3 separate regions of the Homo sapiens genome follow, and all the other regions are linked to region 2. The links come from fine-mapping of genetic effects on gene expression. A gene starts in region 2. Each other region holds a variant in brackets. All regions are shown on one strand. Distances are between the middles of the regions. Region 1 overlaps COTL1 (coactosin like F-actin binding protein 1). Region 2 holds the start of MEAK7 (MTOR associated protein MEAK7). Region 3 overlaps MEAK7 (MTOR associated protein MEAK7).

Region 1 (8,555 bases), 67 kb after region 2:
TCAACTTTCTCATCTGTAAAAAACTATCTCGTCAGGAAAATAATAGGTTACGAGGTTGGAAAGGCTCACGGGTGTGCAGGCACTCCAAAAAAAAGAAAAGGACAAAAGCTCAGATTGGTGTCTTTTGCCCATATCCATGATGTAAATAGTCCCCCAGTGGCTGACGTCAAGCTATCAAAGTGATGTCACCATACGTGGAGGTGGAAGGAGACAGGCGTAATTGGCTCTCGCCAGCTGGGACAAGCAAGCTTCAGCCACCAATGTTCCTAATGACGCAGGAGCCTCCAGTCCTGGGTCTGCCATGGGCTCTCCACCCGCACTGAGTTACACGAGGGTAGAGGCTCTGCCTTCTTTCAACAAATACCACGCCAGGCTGTGGGGCTACAGGGCTCAGCAAAATGGATGCAGTCAGTCTTTCCTCTTGCAGTACACAGGTTTCACCCATAGAACCCGCAGGCACCCATGATGCACTCAGTAAACGCTTGTGGCATGAATGAGGGAACCAGGTGACCTGGCTTATCAGACACCCTTAAGCCATGATGATACACAGTTACTGCCATATGTGGATCATAAGACTTTAACAAACAAAATTTCAGAACGATGACGGACAGCTTGACAAAAAAAAGCTATCAAAACCACAAATAACACGTCTAAAGGTAAGAAAATCATCCACATTAAAAAAAAAAGCCCATAAGGAAATAACATAAACAATGACCACCATTTTTCTTTTTCTTGAGAGAAAAGCCTGTTGCCCAGGCTGGAGTGCAGTGGCGCAATCTTGGCTCACAGCAACCTCTGCCCCCAGGGTTCAAGCCATTCTCATGTCTCAGCCTCCCAAGTAGCTCGAACTACAGGCGTCTGCCACCACACCCAGCTATTTTTTGTATTTTTAGTAGAAGCAGGGTTTCGCCACATTGGCCAGGCTGGTCTCAAACTCCTGGCCTTAAGTGATCCGCCCAGCTTGGCCTCCCAAGGTGTTGGCACTACAGGCGTGAGCCACCACGCCCGGCTAACCACAATTATTAAGCACTTATGTGTACCAGCACAGTGCCACAGTACTGAGAATGACACACAGTAGTAAATATGAATCATGGAAGGTGGAAGCAACCCCTATGTCCATCAACAGAGGAGTGGATTATCAAAACACGGTCCGTCCACACAATGGAATATTCCTCAGCCACAGAGAGGAATGAAGCGCTGCCACACGCAACTACATGGATGAACCTCGGAAACAGGATGCTGAGTGAAAGAAGCCAGGCATGAAGACCATGTACTGTCAGCTGCCATTGGTATAAATGTCTAAAAAAGGCAAACCCATACAGACAGAAAGCAGACTCGTGGTTACACAGAGCTGGAGATGGGAACAGGAAATGATAGAGACGTTCTAAAATTGGGATTGTGGTAATGGGTGCACAACTCCACAAATTCACGAAAAAGTACTGAAAAAGTACACTTAGGATGACTTGATTTTGAGGTACATACATCATACCTCAATCAAGTTCTTTTTAAAAAGGCCCGTAAGGTGATCAACATTATTTCCATTTTAAAGGTGAGGAAACAAAGGCTGGAAATTACAATGCTTGTCCGAAGTCAGACAACCAGAAGGTCCAGTTGATGCCAAAGCTGGCGTCTTGAAAGAGCCACCATCTCCTTTTGGGGTGATGAAAAAGTTTTGGAACCAGACAGAGGTAGGGCTTGCACAACACTGTGAATGTTCTGAAAGCCACTGAATTGTACACTTTAAAATGGTTCAGGCCAGGTGCGGTGGCTCACGCCCGTCATCCCAGCACTTTGGAGGCCGAGGCAGGCAGATCACCTGAGGTCAGGAGTTCGAGACCAGCCTGGCCAACATGGCGGAACCCCATCTCTACTAAAACTACAAAAATCAGCCGGGCGTGGTGGCGGGCGCCTGCAATCCCAGCTACTGGGGAGGCTGAGGCAGGAGAATCGCTTGAACCCGGGAGGCGGACGTTGCAGTGAGCCAAGATCGCGCCACTGCACTCCAGCCTGGGCGACAGGGTGAGATCTGTCTCAAAATAAATAAATAAACATAAAAAGGTTCATTTTATGTTAAATGAATTCCACCACAATTAAAAAATAAAAAACAAAAAAGTCGCCATATTGCCAAGAATGATGAGCCCAGGAGCATCCCGAAGTCAAGCTTTACAATAAAAAGACAATGCATTTGGCGCGCAAAGCCACTGAGAACACTAACAAAGTGGAGAACGGGAGGTTAATTTTTATCAAGCAGCTGATGTGTGCCAGGAACAGCCTCACTCATGTTCTCGTTCAGCCCTCAGTATATTAACTTTATTTTATTTTACTTTTTGAAGATAAGACTCATGGGCTGGGCTTGGAGAGATTTGCCCAGAATGACAGAACACCCTTGAGATCCTTTCTGTTCCCACCCCACTACAGTGTGTTACTAAGTGTATGTGATCCGTGCAATGAAAGAACACAAGTTGGATGTAAGAGCCAGAAAGGAGAATTGAGAATTAATGTATTTCTCAACCCTGAGCCCCACGGCATGAGGGAGGGGCAGAGAGCTTTCAGAAGGAGGAAGCCAACAGCTTAAGATGCTTATAGAAGAAAAGTCCAAAGTTCCTCTGCTTTGTGATAGCTATATATGGCAATCTACAGAAATAAGAACACTTGAAGTTCCAGTCGGTTAGCTATTAGAAGATTTAGATTAAGAAAAATAAGTTTGAGAGCCATGGATGGTGGCTCATGCCTGTAATCCCAGCACTTTGGGAGGCTGAGGAGAGCAGATCATGAGGTCAGGAGATCGAGACCAGCCTGGCCAACACGGTGAAAACCCTAATCTACTAAAAATATAAAAATCAGCTGGGTGTAGTGGCGCGAGCCTGTAATCCCAGCTACTCAGGAGGCTAAGGCAGGAGAATGGCTTGAACCTGGGAGGCAGAAATGGCAGTGAGCCAAGATGGCGCCACTGCACTCCAGCCTGGCAACAGAGCGAGATTCCATCTCAAAAAAAGAAAAATAAGTTTGATAAGGTCTAAGAAATCTCAAATGAAAGATACATGGAGCTAGGCACAGGTCAACCTAAAACCACAAGTACTTAGGAAATCAAATTATAATGAAACAAAAACAAGCAAAACAGACAGCAGATCTAGTAAAACATAACAATAAATGTAAATGAACAAAATTATCTTTAAAAATGCTATGTTTCAAACTACAAAAAAAAAACCCTCAAACCTTGTACTACATACCAGAGACATATTTAAAATCAAAAGATTAGCAGAAAAATGATTCCAAGTTATACAAACAAAAGTATATACAAAAGCAACCATATGATCTCTGAAAACATTTAAAGCAAACTGAGTCTCACAAGATAAACAGGGTCATCCTGCAACTTGATAACCCTCCTGGCTCAGCTGATGTTCTTTCCTCTCTGCTCGGTAGAAAATAGAATGGAAGGTTATTTTCCCTGTTGAAGGGCTGTTTTTATCATCAGTACTTAGAGAGGTCTTAAAAGACAAGTCGTCCAGCAATCCGATTACTGCCAAAAAGCAAAGGGTTAGAAAGCAAGTGTCTTAACACACTGAACTGGCTCATACCTAAAAGTCCTGTATTCCTATTTCGTTTCCAATTTATCCTCAGGGGAACACAGAGAGAATGTGCAAAATTGAGTCTTCCCTCATTCCTGCTTTTTTTTTTTTTCCTTTTTTGCCTCTTCCAATGACCAAGAAAGACAAAACTTTAAACATTTCTGAAGATACAGTGACCATGGCCATGCTCTAGGCCCCTTTAGAACAGACCCCAGATTCTCTGTTCGGAAGAATCCTGACATACTGCCTCCAGGGGTGGGCTGAAGACCTTGTATTCAGACATGAGCCTGTTGGCTCCCTTCACCTTCAGTCTGGCTGACAGCTGGTGCATTTGGCTCTGCTCCCGTCCTCACACGAGAGCCCCCGCCGCGTGACTGCCAAGGTGTACAGCCTGGGACTCGATGCAGCCCACGCCAGTGCAAAGCCGAGCAGAGAGAAGGGATGGACGGAGGACACTGGAGGTCCGGGCTCCCTCTGGGCCTTAGTATCACCATGGCCTCATAGACAGCAGGGTTGGTGGTCCTTAGAGGTCATCTCTTGCCCCTCAATTCAGAAGGGGAAACTGAGGCTCGGCGAGTGACACCATGAGGCTGGTTAAGCGGCAGTCATGCCCCAGCCCACTGCTCTCCACCCTTGCACCTGGGTCCGCTCATCTCTCCCCCCTGCCCATCAGCTTCCCTCCCCTCTTTGTGTCTCCTCCTCGTGCTGCTCCTGTGTCTTGTCCACCCCTTCCCCGTTCTTTGAGCCTGGCAGTGACTCCTAGCACCTTCCAAATAAAGTGTCTACATCTCCATCCAATCATCCCCCTGGGATCGGCTCCCCGCTGTCACCTCACCGGCAGACTGGTCATGCACGGGCCCATTGCCTGGACGTCACGTGGACACATGGGTGAGACGGTGAGACGGGCCTGTGACCAACAGTGGTCAGTTCCCTTGCAGCCAGAGCTGGACCCCAGCCTGCTCCTGAGTGGACACCGAGCCGCTCCCACCTTCTATAGGGCCAGCAGCAACTCTGCAGGGGCCCAGGTGGTCAGGCCGCATGGAGGGGGTACTAGCAGGCCTCCATCCTACACGGGGTGCTCCCAAGCCCCCAGAGGCTTACAAAGGTGAGCCAGCACCTTCCATTCAGGGCGTGGACTCCACAGAATGTCCCCAAAATGTCTAACCTGAGCCTCAGCCTAAAAACCAACTGACAACAACCTCCACACCTCTCCACCTCCACGCCTTCCAGCGGCTCCCATGAGATAAGGGAGTTGCAAGCACCACTGGGGAGTGGGCTTCATTGCATGTTTTCAAAACGAGGCAGAAGCTGAGCAAAACAGCTCTGGGCAGACAGACTCTGACTTGGGAGCAATGCCTGAAACTGGAGGGAGCCTGCGTGGAGCAGCTGAAGTCTGCCTTGCACCTGAGGCTGGAAACCAGAGGGAACATATGCATGCAAAGCGTGGCCACCCCTACACCACACACACCTCAAGACACAGCACTTGCCAGCACCCACATGCCACCAACACCCACGGGGGCAGGGGCAGGTGGCAAGACTCAGGAGGCAAGTCCTTCATCAGAAGGAGACTTCCAGGGCCTAGAGCAATGCGGACACACACAGAATGTTAATTTCTCTTTTTTTGAAACACAGTCTCACTCTGTCACCCAAGCTGGCGTGCAGTGGTGCGATCTCGGCTCACTGCAGGCTCAACCTCCTAGGTTCAAGCGATCCTCCCACCTCCGCCTTCCTAATAGCTAGAAATACAGGCACAAGCCACCACGTCCAGCTGATTTTTGTATTTTTCTGTAGAGACGTGGTTTCGTCATGTTGCCCAGGCTGGTCTCCAACTCCTGGGCTCAAGCGATCCACCCATCTTGGCCTCCCAAAGGCCAGAATTTTGAATTTTCTTTCTTTCCTTTTTTTTCTTAGACAGGTCTCACTCTGTCACCCACGCTGCCAGGCTGGAGGGCACTGGTGCAATCTCAGCTCACTGCAACCTCCACCGCCTGTGCTCAAGCAATCCTACCACCTCAGCCACCGAAGTAGCCGGGACTACAGGTACACACCACCATGCCCGACTAATTTTTTTTTTTTTGGTAGATAATGGGGTTTTACCATGTTGCCCAGGCTGGTCTCAAACTCCTGAGATGAAGTGATCCACTGACCTCGGCCTCCCAAAGTGCTAGAATTACAGGCGTGAGCCACTTTGCCTGGCCGGGAATTTTCAATTTGCTACTAGCCACATTGAAAAATGTAAGAAAGAAACCAGTGCCATTTATTTTAATAGTATTTTATCTAATCCAATATATGCAAAATATTGTCATTTCCACAATGTAATCAATGCTAAAAGGTACTGACGAGGTCCTTTACATTCATTTCTTTTGAACCCAGCCTTAGAAACGCTGTGTGCCCTCCGGGTATACGGCACACACTGATATGGCTGGGTGCGCTTTCAGGCGCTCAGTGGCCACACGTGGCCAGCAACAGCGCAGGTCTAGACAGAACACGAAAGCGTCTGAAAGAATAATGTGATCAGGCAAACAGAATCATGAATCGCAGAGCATTAGAGCCCATCCGACAGGGGTGGACATCTGCGCCATGTCCAGATCTGGGTGGTGGCTTCAAAGGTATGCATCATGAACATTCAAAATACACAAAACTTGGGCCAGATGCAGTGGCTCATGCCCAGCACTTTGGGAGGCCGAGGTGAGTGGATCACCTGAGGTCAGCAGTTCAAGGCCAGCCTGGCCAACATGGTGAAACCCCATCTCTACTAAAAATACAAAGAATTAGCTGGGTGTGAGAGGCGGGAGAATCGCTTGAACCGGGGAGGCGGAAGTTGCAGTGAGCTTAGATCGCACCATTGCACTCCAGCCTGGGTGACAAGAGCGAAACTCTGTCTCAAAAAAAAAAA[A/T]ATATATATATATACATACACACACACACACACACACACACACTCAACGAGTAGTATTCCGAAGATCTCTGCGTTTTACTCTATGTAAATTGTGTTTCAGCTGAACAAAATAGTGAAGGGAGGTGGGGCGCTGTGGCTCACGCCGGTAATCCCAAGCACTTTGGGAGGTCGAGAAGGGAGAATCGCTTGAACCCCGGAGTTCCAAGACTAGCCTGGGGAACAGTGGGACCCTTTCTCTACAAATAATAATAATAATAATAGTAATAAATAGCCAACAGTGGTGGTGTGCGCCTGTTGTCCCAGCTACTTGGGAGGCTGAGGCAGGAAGATCACTTGAGCCTGGGAGGTCGAGGCTGCCGTGAGCCATGATCGCACCACTGCACTCCACCCTTGAGACCTGCCATTCACCTCTTCATTATGTAGAGGACCAGCAACAACCCAGAGAGGGGACGCAGTTCATCCCAGGGGACACAGCAACTTCCCGGCAGGGCCCTGGGGATGCGTTCCTGGTGCCAGCCCCACTTTCTCCCCACATCCCGCCTCCAGGGGCTGCTCTAGACTGCCAAGCCCTCGAGGCAGCTGCCACAACCTGCCAGAGACTGCACAGCAACATGTGTCAGTCTGGGGGCACCGTCACCTGTGGCTGAAGAAAGCTCTTTGTTTTGTCTGGGAACTCGGTGTCGCTCTCTCATAGCTGCCAGACGGGGGACTTCTCTTTTCTTGCCAAAGCAGGATTTTCTTCCAAGGGCCTCATCCGACGAAGTCTCACTCCAAGCGGCTGAAGCTGCTTGAATGGTTTGGAATTATGCAACCAGCAAGTGGAAGACCAGTTTTTTTGTTTTTGTTTTTTCTGAGACGGACTCTCACTCTGTTGCCCAGGCTGGAGTGCAATAGTGCGATCGGCTCACTGCAACCTCTGCCTCCCGGGTTCAAGTGATTCTCCTGCCTCTACCTCCTGAGTAGCTGGGATTACAGACAACCACCACCACGCCTGGCTAATTTTTGTATTTTTAGTAGAGACGGGGTTTCACCATGTTGGCCAGGCTGGTCATGAATGAAGACAAGTTTTGTCCCTGTGACCTTTCTCAAGTGCTTATAGATTCATGCCTCAAAGATGCAAAATAAACATCCATTGAAACCTGTCTCCACCTTTCTGAGGAGGGTAATATAGCAGAGGGTACGGGTTAGGTACAGGGGCTCTGTACAGAGTCTAGCCATCTATTTGCCACGCTGGATTTTAAAGTGCATGTTCTCCTGTCTTGGTTTTAAATCATTCTTTTCTCATTTATTTATTTATCTTTTGAGATGAAGTTTTTGTTCTTGTCACCTAGGCTGGAGTGCAGTGGTGCAATCTCAGTTCACTGTAACCTCCACCTCCCGGGTTCAAGCGATTCTCCTGCCTCAGCCTCTCGAGTAGCTGGAATTACAGGCGCCCACCATCACACCTGGCTAACTTTTGTATTTTTAGTAGAGACGGGGTTTCACCATGTTGGCCAGGCTGGTCTTGAACTCCGGACCTCAGGTGATCCACTCGCCTCAGCCTCCCAAAGTGCTGGGATTACAGGGGTGAGTCACCACGCCCAGCCCATCCTTTTCATTTTTATTTTTATTTATTTTCATTTTTTGAGACGGAGTCTCACTCTGTCGCCCAGACTGGAGTGCAGTGGTGCAATCTCAGCTCAGCACAACCTCCACTTCCAGGTTCAAGCAATTCTCCTGCCTCAGCCTCTGAAGTAGCTGGGATTACAGGCACGTACCACCACGGCCGGCTCATTTTTGTATTTTTATTAGAGACAGGGTTTCATCATGTTGGCCAGACTGGTCTCGAACTCCTGGCCTCAAGTGATCTCCCCCCCTTGGCCTCCCAAAGTGCTGGGATCACAGGCATGAGCCACCACACCTGACCCCTTTTCATTTTTTAATGGCTCCCAACTGCCCAGGTTTAAACCCCAGCATGCTGGGAGCAGGTCCAGGCCAAATACAAACAGGCACCCTTGTCCACAGGCATCTCCAGTGGCCTGAGCCTCCCTGGGGACTCAACCTCCCTGAGCCTGAGTCTCCTCATCTGCAAATGCGGACAATAGCAGCTT
Region 2 (5,177 bases):
CCCAGACATCGGTAGGGCTGAAGGTGAGAAAACCTGGCTTCTGAGGATGTAGGGCAGCGGAACAAAATGGAAGCGGAACTTGATACAAGGGAACCCACAGAAGTCTCGAGGCCAATGTAGGGTTGTGTTATGCACAGCTTTGCAGAGAAGAGGCCACCCCATGTACCCAGGTGTACTGTGAAAGTCCCATGACACCGAGAAAACTTGCCAGGGACTGAAAGCTTTCCATCATCAAGCCTATAATCCCAGAACTTTGGGAGGATCATTTGAGGCCAGGAGTTTGAGACCAGCCTGGGCAACATAGTGAGACTTCGTCTCTGCCAAAAATACAAACCTCAGCCGGGTGTGGTGGCGTGTGACTATAGTTCCAGCTATTCAGGAGGCTGAGGTGGGAAGATCGCTTGAACCAGGAGGCAGAGGTCGCAGTGAGCCAAGATCACAACAGTGCACTCCAGCCTGGGTGACAGAGCAAGACTCTGTCTCATAAAAACACAAACAAAAGTTCCAGCAGCCCATAATAAGTGACCAAGATGTTTTGCTTGACCAGACTTTAGTCAGGCTCCTGGGCCCATCTGTGTACCTCTTTGTAAAATCTGGTTTTAGCAAAACAAAAAACAAACAAACAAAAAAACCCACAAAACCACTCATCCTTGATATTTGATCACCATTATCTGTTCACTTGCTATCTAACCAGGTTTAATGCTTAGGTTAGGGATATCCAATCTTTCAGTTTCCCTGGGCCACACTGGAAGAACTGTCTTGGGCCACACATAAAACCCACTAACAATAACTGATAAGTGCATATATCTACATATATGGTAAAAAAAAAATCTCATGTTTTAAGAAAGCTTATGAATTTGTGTTGGATGTCATTCAAAGCCGCCTTAGGCCACATATGGCCCACGGGTTGGACGAGCTTGCCCTAGGTGATGTCTGATCACCCTGGCCTGCCTTCAGTAACAAACTGCTAGGTAAGCTTACCCAGAATCCACCCTAGCGCCCTGATGTTTCCTCAGTCATCTTCCATCCACTGATCCCCACCCTGCTTCCTGGCTTCCCACTTGCCCATGCTATAATCAGAGTTGAGCCCAATCTCTCTCCTTTACTACAAAATCCCATTGCTGTGGTCCCTATACCCATTGCAATGGTCTTCAATAATTAATGTGCTTTTAATAAGCATCATTAATTAATTTCTTTAACATAAGGTTGAGAAGATTAAATAAGGTAACCCAGGGCATTTGATCTGCTTACTGGAGGTCAGAGACAGAATAATGGGCCCAAGACAACAGAGAATGGCTCCTTGGGATCTTGTCTTAGAACAAGAGAAACTGCCCTGCTTGGAAGAAACGGAAGGTTGCTCTGCCTCCGTGATGGAGGGGTGGACAGGGACCGATTGTCTGCAGGATGGCCCCCAAGGTTCCCACTAGTATCCTAGGAATGGCTTAGTCACCTCCTGCTCAGAGCTTCTCCAACAGGCTGTTACATGGCTGCTTCCCACCCTGGCTGCCAAGCTCCAACTCTCTACTCCAAGGGCCCCGCATCCCTAGAGCCACACAAGGGTCCCTCCGTACCCCCACAAGCTGGGGAGATTCCAACTGCCTCATCTGGACAGGCTTCGAAGTCCTGTCTGTGTCTCAGAGCCCAGAGGCCCTTGTGCGAAGGGGCAGCTTGAGCCTGGGCAAGAAGTTCCTGTGGGCCAGAAGGTGACCTGTCCTGTGCTGGCCACCTACATGGCCTGGGAACAGTTATCAGCTCACTGTCCTGGAAAAGCCCAGATGGGTGTGGTCAGAATACAAGAAGGAAAACCCCCTCCACACACACTTCAGTGTCTACCCCAGACTCGCCTCCTCCGTGGAGGCACCCCTCCCTTTCCGCGTCTACACAGGCTCTGAATCCCCCTTCAACACGGCTGGCCTTGGCCCTGGGGGAAGCACCTCGCCACCCTCTTACCTTGACCACATAAACAGCGGGAGGTGCAGGATGATTCTGATCCCCCCCAGGAGACCCTCCCTCCATCCCGCCCCGCTGTCCCCACCCCTCACCTCCCCGCAGCCTTCACCTCTCCCTCCCCCGACCCGAGGGCCTGAAGAGGCGTGGGAGGCCAGGGAGGGGCAGGGCCCAGGCCTACTCTGGACCCGTCTGCTCCAGTCCCCCGACTCAGCTGGGCCTGCGCCTCTGGGTCAGCTCACTGCGAACCTCAGCCCAGGTACCTACCCTGCCGGGCTTCCTGGTGCTGTCCGGTCCGGTCCAGCAGCCCACGGGCTCCTCTCGAGAGCCGCCCCTTCCCTGTTGCCAGGCAACATTGCTGAGGGGCAGTCATTTGGTCCAATCGTGGAAGCGGAGGTGTGGGGCGGAACCCAAGAGAGGAGTCAGCCAATGGTGACGCGCCTCACAGGGAGTGAGCCGAACCCGGTGGGTGCGGCTCGGGGCGGGGCCGCGGTCTGCGGGAGGAGCGGCTGCAGGCCCGGGAATCCGGCCCGGCTGCGTGCGTACCAAGGAGGCGCCTGGAGAGGGCGGCCAATGACTCAGGCCAGGCCAGGCCAGCAGTGGTACCTGGGGAGAAGGGGTGTCTGGGCTGGGCGCTGGAGCGGAGTAGCCAGGGTGTGGGAGATCCTGGGGGAGAGGCTGAGCTTGGGGGTGAAGACACCCGGGGGAGGAGAGTGGCCCATGTGGAGCCCATGCAGAGGCCTCTGCAGTGCAGCCTCCTGGGCCCCAGGCAACTCTCCCCTGACTCCCCGGCCTGCTGGTCCTGGCCTAGAGCCTCGGGTCCGCCTCCCCTCGGGCCTCCCTCTGCCAGCTGCCCCTGCCTCGCTCTTCCCTGGCACCAGGTCCTTCCCGGCAGCCATCAGGCGCCAGCTCCACAGCCTGGCTAAACAGACTCCCTCCACCCCACGTGCGCCTCTTCAGCCGGTTCCCGTTCACTCCAAGACGTCTGAACCTGTCACCCCACTTCTTCAGCTCGTTCCTTCTCAAACCCACCGAAACCTGGTCCCGGGGGCCTGCTCACTACATCCGAGGTGCGCTTTGGGTCCTCGCAGGCAGCATTTGGCGCTTGGTGATCGTGCTCTCATCAGACCTCTCTCTTGGGCACCCCGGCGCCCATTCCTGGCCCTGGCTCGCTCGCTGTCCCTGGTGGTCTTCCCTGGGCCCTTCTGGCTTCTGCCCTGGAGTTTCTCGACTTCTCCCTACTCTCTCCACCCCACGCATCCTCCCTGGGGTCCACCTTCCTGCAGATTCAGCTCCCGCATGTCCATGGTACCAGTTCTCTCCCCTGCACGGCCTGCTGGTTTTCCAGCCTGGAAAACCGTGACTTCGCCCGCCAACGTCCGCTTGAGTTGGTCTCGAACTCCTGACCTCAGGTGATCTGCCTGCCTCGGCCTCCCACAGTGCTAGAATTGTAGGGGTTAGCCACTGCACCCGGCTGGTCACCTCTTATTCTTTAAGCTGGAACAAAAATAGAAGGCTTTCTGCCTGAGGGCAGCAGGCCTGGCTGGTGACAGTGCACAAGGTAGGGCCCCTCACCAAGACATTGCTCTGAGATCCAAGGCCAATGTCCCAGGAGAAGCAGCTCCACAAACTAACGCATCTACAGCCAGGGTACCCCCAGCTGTGGATGCCAATGACACGAGTAGCCCCAGCTCTTCACCTCGGCTTCTTAGAGTAGGTGCCTGTCACCTGCAGCCAGGGCTCCTGATGCCCAAGACACACGGGCCTTTAGACATGAAGGACTAGACCCTGTTTCCAGCCTTCACACCCCTGTACTTCCTGCACACATCAACCAGGTGTGTCTTTTTCAGTGCCATCCGAGGTAGTGGCATTTTTGACATAGCAACAGTTTTTTGTAGGCTGAGGCACACCAAGGGTGGACAGCAATGGTGGCCTCTCAGGTGCAGGTACTGGGGGGTCCGCAGGAGCAAACCGGAGCCGATGTGTCAGCCTGGGCAACATAGTGAGACTCCATCTCTACAAAAAATGAAAAGCTTGGCCGGGCGTGGTATGGCACACCCGTAGTCCCAGCTACTCAGGGAGCCGAGGCAGGAGGATCGCTTGAGCCTCAGAGGGCGAGACTGCAGTGAGCCGTGATTGCACCACTGCACTCCAGCCTGGGCAGGAAAGTGAGATCTTGTTATTAAAACGGTGAAACAAAATCCCCCAGAAAACCACAGAAGCAAATGCGGAGCGGCGCCGTTTGAGAGCTACCGAAGTGGCGCCACCTCGTGGCCATACCCTCCAGAAACAGCCTACACTCCAATCTGCCCACCTGCCTGGTTGGAAAGTTTCTGTTTTTGATGGAGTTTCACTCTTGTTGCCCAGGCTGGAGTGCAATGGCGCAATCTCGGCTCACTGCAGCCTCCACCTCCCAGGTTCAAGCAATTCTCCTGCCTCAGCCTCCCGAGTAGCTGGGATTACAGGCATAGGCCACCACACCCAGTTAATTTTTATATTTTTAGTAGAGACGGGGTTTCACCACGTTGGCCAGGCTGGTCTCGAACTCCTGACCTTAGGTAATCCACCCACCTCGGCCTCCCAAAATGCTGGGATTACAGGCATGAGCCACCGCCCCTGGTATTCTCAATTTTTTTAAATAAGAGATTTATATTGCTTGACATTTTGCATATAAAGTGAGACTCTTTTAAAAATATACATCATGCTATTTCAACAAGCTGGTGCTCCCGGGGATGTCCATGGGCTGTCCAACTGCCCCCGGGGCACCAGCTTCTGTTTTTTATGCTGACTTTGGGCACTGAACTCTCCTTGGCTCCCAGAGGTCCTGACCAGGCTGGTCCTGCCATCCACAGCGGTGCCTCTGCTAGCGACATCCCTGCCCAATTTTCCATGTCCAGCTTTGACACCTCCACAGAAAGGCTGAGCCACCACCGGGCCCCCATTGTGGCTGAGCATCCACTCTCTCTTCCCCATGTGCTCCTTGCCCCCGACTCCCCATCTCTGGAACCCAAGTTTGGGCTGCATGGACCACCTTCTGGGCCAGGCTGTTAGGAGGCCACCACCAAGCAGCAAACGCAGGAGCAGCCGTGCCCTGAGGAGGCACCACCAGCAGCCTCCAGCAGCACTCGGTGAGGCGGGCAACGATCCATCTGTGCCGCCAGCATGGAGCCGGAAGCCACGGCTGACTTGTGCAGTAGAGGAAGTCGAGTTCATTTTATTGAATTTATTCT
Region 3 (6,005 bases), 31 kb before region 2:
GGGTGACAGAGTGAGACTCCATCTCAAAAAGTAAAAAAAAAATATATATATATATATATATATGCATACACACACACACATATATAATTTATATATATACACACACATAAAAATATATATATATACACACACACACACATATATATATATAAAAGCCTTTTGAATAGATAAAAGATTTAAGAGGTAAAAACAGAAACCACAGTAGAAGAAAATGATTTTTAATACTCAGAGTAGAGACAGACTGCCTAAACAAACGGCAAATCCAAAGACCCTTAAGCAGAAATGCTGGGAAATATGACAGAAACTGTAAAATTTATGGGCAGAAAAACGCCACAAACGAAGTCAAATAAACCGTAGAAAACATTGACCATACATGGGAAATGCTACTTCATTCATAAAAAGCACTGTTGGCCGGGTGTGGTGGCTTGCACCTGTAATCCCAGCACTTTCGGAGGCTGAGGCAGGAGGATCCCTTGAGTTCAGGAGTTCAAGACCAGCTTGGGCAACATATTGAGACCTCATTTCTATTTTATTTTTTAAAAGCACTGTTACAAATCGATAAGAAAAAGACCGACACCCTAGAAAACCAAGAAAAAGATATGATACAGAAAGCTTTTGAAAAATGAGGCTGTTCACTGTCACTTGGTAGAAAAATTTAAACAGTACAGTTTTGAGCAAGACACCATATGGGAGCCCAGCCCACAAGAGACTGCACACCAGCCTGGGGCTCAGCAGCACCAGGGCAGAGGCACAGCAAAGTGCGGGCTGCCACTGCCAAGGTGCAAGTGGGGTGCGTGTTCCCACTCACTGGCATGGGCTGCTGCCACTGAAAGCAGCCTCACCCTCCCCAGTGGCAAGGTCACAGCACAACTGCTGTTACCTCCCACCCAAGCATTCCACCAGAGGCCTGGGGACTGCCCCCTCCCCAGCTACCACAGAAAATGCCTGCGTATGCCATGGAGGGACCTCAGACAAGCCCGCCCAGCCTGGCTTTGCCGCACATGCTGATATGGCTTGGCTGTGACCCCACCCAAATCTCATCTTGTACTTCCCATAATCTCCACGTGTCATGGGAGGGAGCCGGGTGGGGGAGGTAATTGAATCATGGGGGTAGTTACCTCCATGCTGTTTTCATGATAGTGAGTTCTGACACGATCTGATGGTTTTATAAGGGGCTTTGCTCCTGCTTTGCTCTGCACTTCTCCTTCCTACCATCATGTGAAGAAGGACATGTTTGCTTCCCCTTCCGCCATGATTGTAAGTTTCCTGAGGCCTCCCTAGCCATGCTGAACTGTGAGCCAATTAAACGTCTTTCCTTTAGAAATTATCCAGGCTCAGATATGTCTTTATTAGCAGCATATGAGAACGGACTAATACACACACCCTATGCTGGAACACACAGTCTAGATGACTGGGGACGGCCCAGCCGAGGCCACCACTATTGGTACCTGAGCACTCCTCTCAGACTGCTGAGGGTGGGTTCACCCACCCTGCCACTACCTGCACTAGTTGGCATCTACATGCACGTGCCACCTGTGGGCCTGGAGACTGGCCCACCCAGCTCATCACAGCCACCACCACTACCAGGTACACTACTAGGGACCCAGAGGGTTACCCTGCCATTGCCACTGCCACTACCATCTCCTATGCCACACTGGCTGCCCAGGGGCCCAAGAGCCCAGCCACCTGGCCCACTGCTGCCATTTAGCATCCAAGCAAGCTATCCTCAACAAAACACTAGCAAACTGAATCCAACAGCACATCAAAAAAAAAAAAGAAAAAAAGAAAAAAAGAAAACAGGCCGGGTGTGGTAGCTCACGCCTGTAATCCCAGCACTTTGGGAGGTCAAGGCGGGTGGATCACTTGAAGCCTGGAGTTCGAGACCAGCCTGGCCAACATGGTGAAACCCTGTCTCTAGTAAAAATACAAATATTAGCCAGGTGTGGGGGTGGGTGCCTGTAATCCCCACTACTTGGGAGGCTGAGGCAGGAGAATTGCTTGAACATAGCAGGCAGAGGTTGCAGTGAGTCGACATTCTGCCACTGCACTCCAGCCTGAGCGACAAAGCAATATTCCATCTCAAAAAGCAAAACAAAACAAAAATAATACACCACAATAAAGTGAGATTTATCCCACTTATGCAAGGATGGTTCAACATACAGAAATCAATAAATGTGATACATCACATTAATAGAATGAAGGACAAAAACCATATGATCAGATATAAGCAATTAGTAAACTGATGCAGAAAAAGCATTTGATAAAACACGACATTCCTTCCTGAAAAAAAACTGTCAACAAACCAGACAGAAGGGACATACCTCAACATAATCAAGACCATATATGACAAACCCACAGCTGACATCATCCTGAATGGGGAAAAGCTGAAAGCCTTTCCTCTAAGAACTGGAACAAGACAAGGATGCCCACTTTTACCACTCCTATGCAACATAATATTGGAAGTCCTGGCCAGAGCAATCAGGCAAGAGAAAGAAATAAAAAGCATCCCAACTGGCAAAGAGGAACTCAAATTGTCCCTTTTTGCTGATGATATGATCCTGTATCTAGAAAGACTCCATCAAAAAACTATTAGATCTCATAAATTCAGTAAAGTTACAGGATACAAAATCAACATACAGAAATCAGTAGTGTTTCTACATACAGATAATGGAATATCTGAGAAATAATTCAAGACAATAACCCCATTGACAATTACTACAAAAAAAAAAAAAAAAAACCTAGGAATAAATTTAACCAAGAAGTAAAAGATCTATACAAGGAAAACTACAAAGCACTAATGAAAGACATTGAAGAGGACACAAACAAATGGAAAACATCCCATGCTCATGGATCAGAACTAATACCATTAAAATGACCGTACTGCCCAAAGCCATCTAGAGATTCAATGCCATCCCTATCAAAATATGTCATTTTTCACAAAATTAAAAACAAATCCTAAAGTTCATATGGAACCAAAAGAGAGCCCAAGTAGCCTAAGCAATCCTGAGCAAAAAGAACAAGGTTGCAGGCAGCATACCACCTCACTTCAAAATCTATTACAGGGCTATAGTAACCAAAATAGCATGGTATTGCTTTAAAAAAAATTTAAAAAGAGACACATGGACCAATGGAACAGAATAGAGAAACCAGAAATAAGTCTACATATCTATAGCCAACTTATGTTCAACAAAGTTGCCAAAAACATACACTGGGGTAAGGACAGTGTCTTCAATAAATGGTGCTGGGATAATTGGATATCCATATGCAGAAGAATGAAACCCTACCTCTCACCATCTACAAAAACCAGATGAAGACGAATTAAAGATTTAAATGTAAGACCCAAAACTATAAAACTACTAGAAGAAAACAGGGAAAACAATTCACGAACCCAACAATTTAAAAATAAACAATCCCATTAAAAAGTAGACAAAGGACATGAATAGACATTTCTCAAAAGAAGACATATAATGGCCAACAGCTATAAGAAAAAAAAAAAAAGAGCTCAACAT[CACTA/C]ACTATCATCCAATCCAGCAATCCCACTACTGAGTATTTATTCAAAGGAAAAGAATCAGTGTGTCCAAGGGATATCTGCATGCCGACATTTACTGCAGCACTATTCGCAATAGCAAAGATGTAGACACAACCTAAACATCCACCAATGGATGAACGGATAAAGAAAACGCGGTATATACCCTCTCATGCCAGTCAGCATGGCAATTATTAAAATGTCAAGAAACAATAGATGCTGATGAGATCGTAGAAAAACAGGAACGCGGCTGGGCGCAGTGGCTCACGCCTGTAATCCCAGCATTTTGGGAGGCTGAGGTGGACGGATCACAAGGTCAGGAGATCGAGACCATCCTGGCTAACACGGTGAAACTCTGTCCCTACTAAAAATACAAAAAAATTAGCCGGGCGTGGTGGCGGGCGCCTGTAGTCCCAGCTACTCGGGAGGCTGAGGCAGGAGAATGGCGTGAACCGGGGAGGTGGAGCTTGCAGTGAGCGGAGGTCACGCCACTGCACTCCAGCCTGGGCAACAGAGTGAGACTCCGTCTCAAGAAAAAAAAAAAAAAAAAAGAAAAAACAGGAACGCTCTTCCACTGTTGGTGGTAATGTAAATTAGTTCAACCATTGTGGAAGACAGTGTGGCGATTCCTCAAAGATCTAGAATCAGAAATACCACTGGACGCAGCAATCCCATTACTAGGTACATACCCAAAGGAATATAAATCATATGTTACAAAGATACATGCACACATATGTTCACGGCAGCGCTATTCACAATAACAAAGACATGGTATCAACCCAAATGCCCATTAGTGATAGACTGGATTTTAAAAATGTGGCACATATATACCATGGAATACTAAGTAGCCATCAAAAAGAATGAGATCATGTCCTTTGCAGGAACATGGATGGAGCTGGGAGCCATTACCCTCAGCAAACTGGCACAGGAAGAGAAAACCAAACACTGCATGTTCTCACTTATAAGTGGAAGCTGAACAGTAAGAACACATGGATGCAGGGAGGGGAAAAACACAGACTGGGGCCTGTTGGTGGTAGGGCTGCGGGAGGGAGAGGATTAGGAAAAATAGCTAACGCATGCTGGGCTTAATACGTAGGTGATGGGTTGATAGGTTCAGCAAACCACCATGGCACACATTTACCTATGTAACAAATCTGCACATCCTGCACATGTACCCTGGAACTTAATTTTTTAAAAAAGGAAGAGTATATATACACGATGGAATATTATTTGGCCATAAAAAGTGAAATCATGTCATTTGCAACAACATGGATGGTACTGGAGGTCATTATGTTCAGTGAAAAAGGCAGACACAGAAAGACAAATTCTGCATGTTCTCACTGATGTATGTCAGCTAAAAAAAAAAAAAAGTGGATCTCATGGAGGTAGAGAAAAGAACGATAGATACTAGAGGATGGGAAGGATATATGAGTGGGAGGGAGGGAGCAAGAGATGTCGGCTAGTGGGTGCAGGGAGCCGAAGGCCCGTGGGACGTGACCAACTCAGCATTCCACTGGAGGCTGTGTGATCAAACAGCAAACTGTTTATCATGAATGCAGGATGTGGGCAAACTCATGACTGCTCCTGCCAACAGGTTTGCTGGAGGCCATCACTCCCTGTCACCAAGGTTATCTACTGCGACATCTAGAGCCTGTTGTTTGAGGAATGCAGTCTTGCAAGCCTACTCCGGACTGAGCAGCTGACCCCTTCTTCCACCCCCCTTCTCACTATGTCTTTTGCATAACAAATACGGAGGGCTGTGTAAAGTTCAGGGCCCTTGTCCACTAGAGGCAAGGTGCCCCCTGACCCCTTCTTCCAAACATACTCTTTTGTCTCTTGTCTTTTATTCCCATGTTCGCCCCCTTTGTTCGGTCCCCCTAGGTCCATGAGGATTACTTAGTTGCACCCCAAACAGCAACAGAACCGGGTGCCCCACAAGGGGGTACAAACATACAGTTAGAAGAGATAAGTTCTCATGTTCTATAGCAGCACTGGGTGACCAGAGTCGGCAACAATGCACTGTGTATTTCACAGTAGACATAAGGGAAGACTTGCAATGCTTGGAATGTGGAAAGGATACTCAAGTTGACGGACACCCCTAAATACCCTCACTTGATCATTACACAGTCTACACATGTAGCAAATACATGTACCCCATAAGTATGTAAATATTATATCAACAAAATATAGTTTTTGTCTATCAGGTTAAAAAAACATATTTTAATACAGTTTTGCTGAAAACATGGCAAACAGGCACCCCGGTATATTGAGTATAAATTGAGCTCAAGAGGTTTTTTTAATTCATCTATATCTAAATAAAAGGCATATACCTCTCAATCCAACAATTCCAATTCTAAGAGTTTATCCCACAGACACCATCACAGCAAGGCACACATAAACGATATTCATGACAATGATTAGCTGCAAACAAAATGTTCCCCAGCTGCAGACGGTGGAACGCTAGGCCCGAGAGCATCCA

The links. PIP is the estimated chance that this variant, and not a neighbour inherited with it, causes the effect. A credible set is the group of variants that fine-mapping cannot tell apart.
Region 1: its variant is the best candidate, but not a certain one, in a credible set for the expression of MEAK7 in whole blood (INTERVAL, PIP 0.54).
Region 3: its variant is the best candidate, but not a certain one, in a credible set for the expression of MEAK7 in monocytes after LPS (Fairfax 2014, PIP 0.71).

What each region holds. Positions count from the first base shown.
Region 1 is chr16:84,567,287-84,575,841 of GRCh38, forward strand. All of the region lies in intron 3 of COTL1 (coactosin like F-actin binding protein 1), which reads right to left. Among named protein-coding and RNA genes, the nearest start is that of COTL1, 47 kb to the right of the region's middle. RefSeq lists an enhancer at 5,037-5,569. The variant A/T (reference allele first, on the strand shown) is at 6,466.
Region 2 is chr16:84,502,387-84,507,563 of GRCh38, forward strand. MEAK7 (MTOR associated protein MEAK7) reads right to left here and starts at 2,273. Exons shown (of 8, transcript NM_020947.4): 1 at 2,215-2,273. LOC124903736 (a long non-coding RNA gene) reads left to right here and starts at 2,416. Exons shown (of 2, transcript XR_007065149.1): 1 at 2,416-2,549; 2 at 4,960-5,177. RefSeq lists enhancers at 1,683-2,183, 2,304-3,251, 2,614-2,733, 4,861-5,177 and silencers at 2,014-2,063, 4,249-4,368, 4,352-4,588.
Region 3 is chr16:84,470,629-84,476,633 of GRCh38, forward strand. MEAK7 (MTOR associated protein MEAK7) reads right to left here. Exons shown (of 8, transcript NM_020947.4): 8 at 5,727-6,005. Among named protein-coding and RNA genes, the nearest start is that of ATP2C2-AS1, 6.3 kb to the left of the region's middle. The variant CACTA/C (reference allele first, on the strand shown) is at 3,510.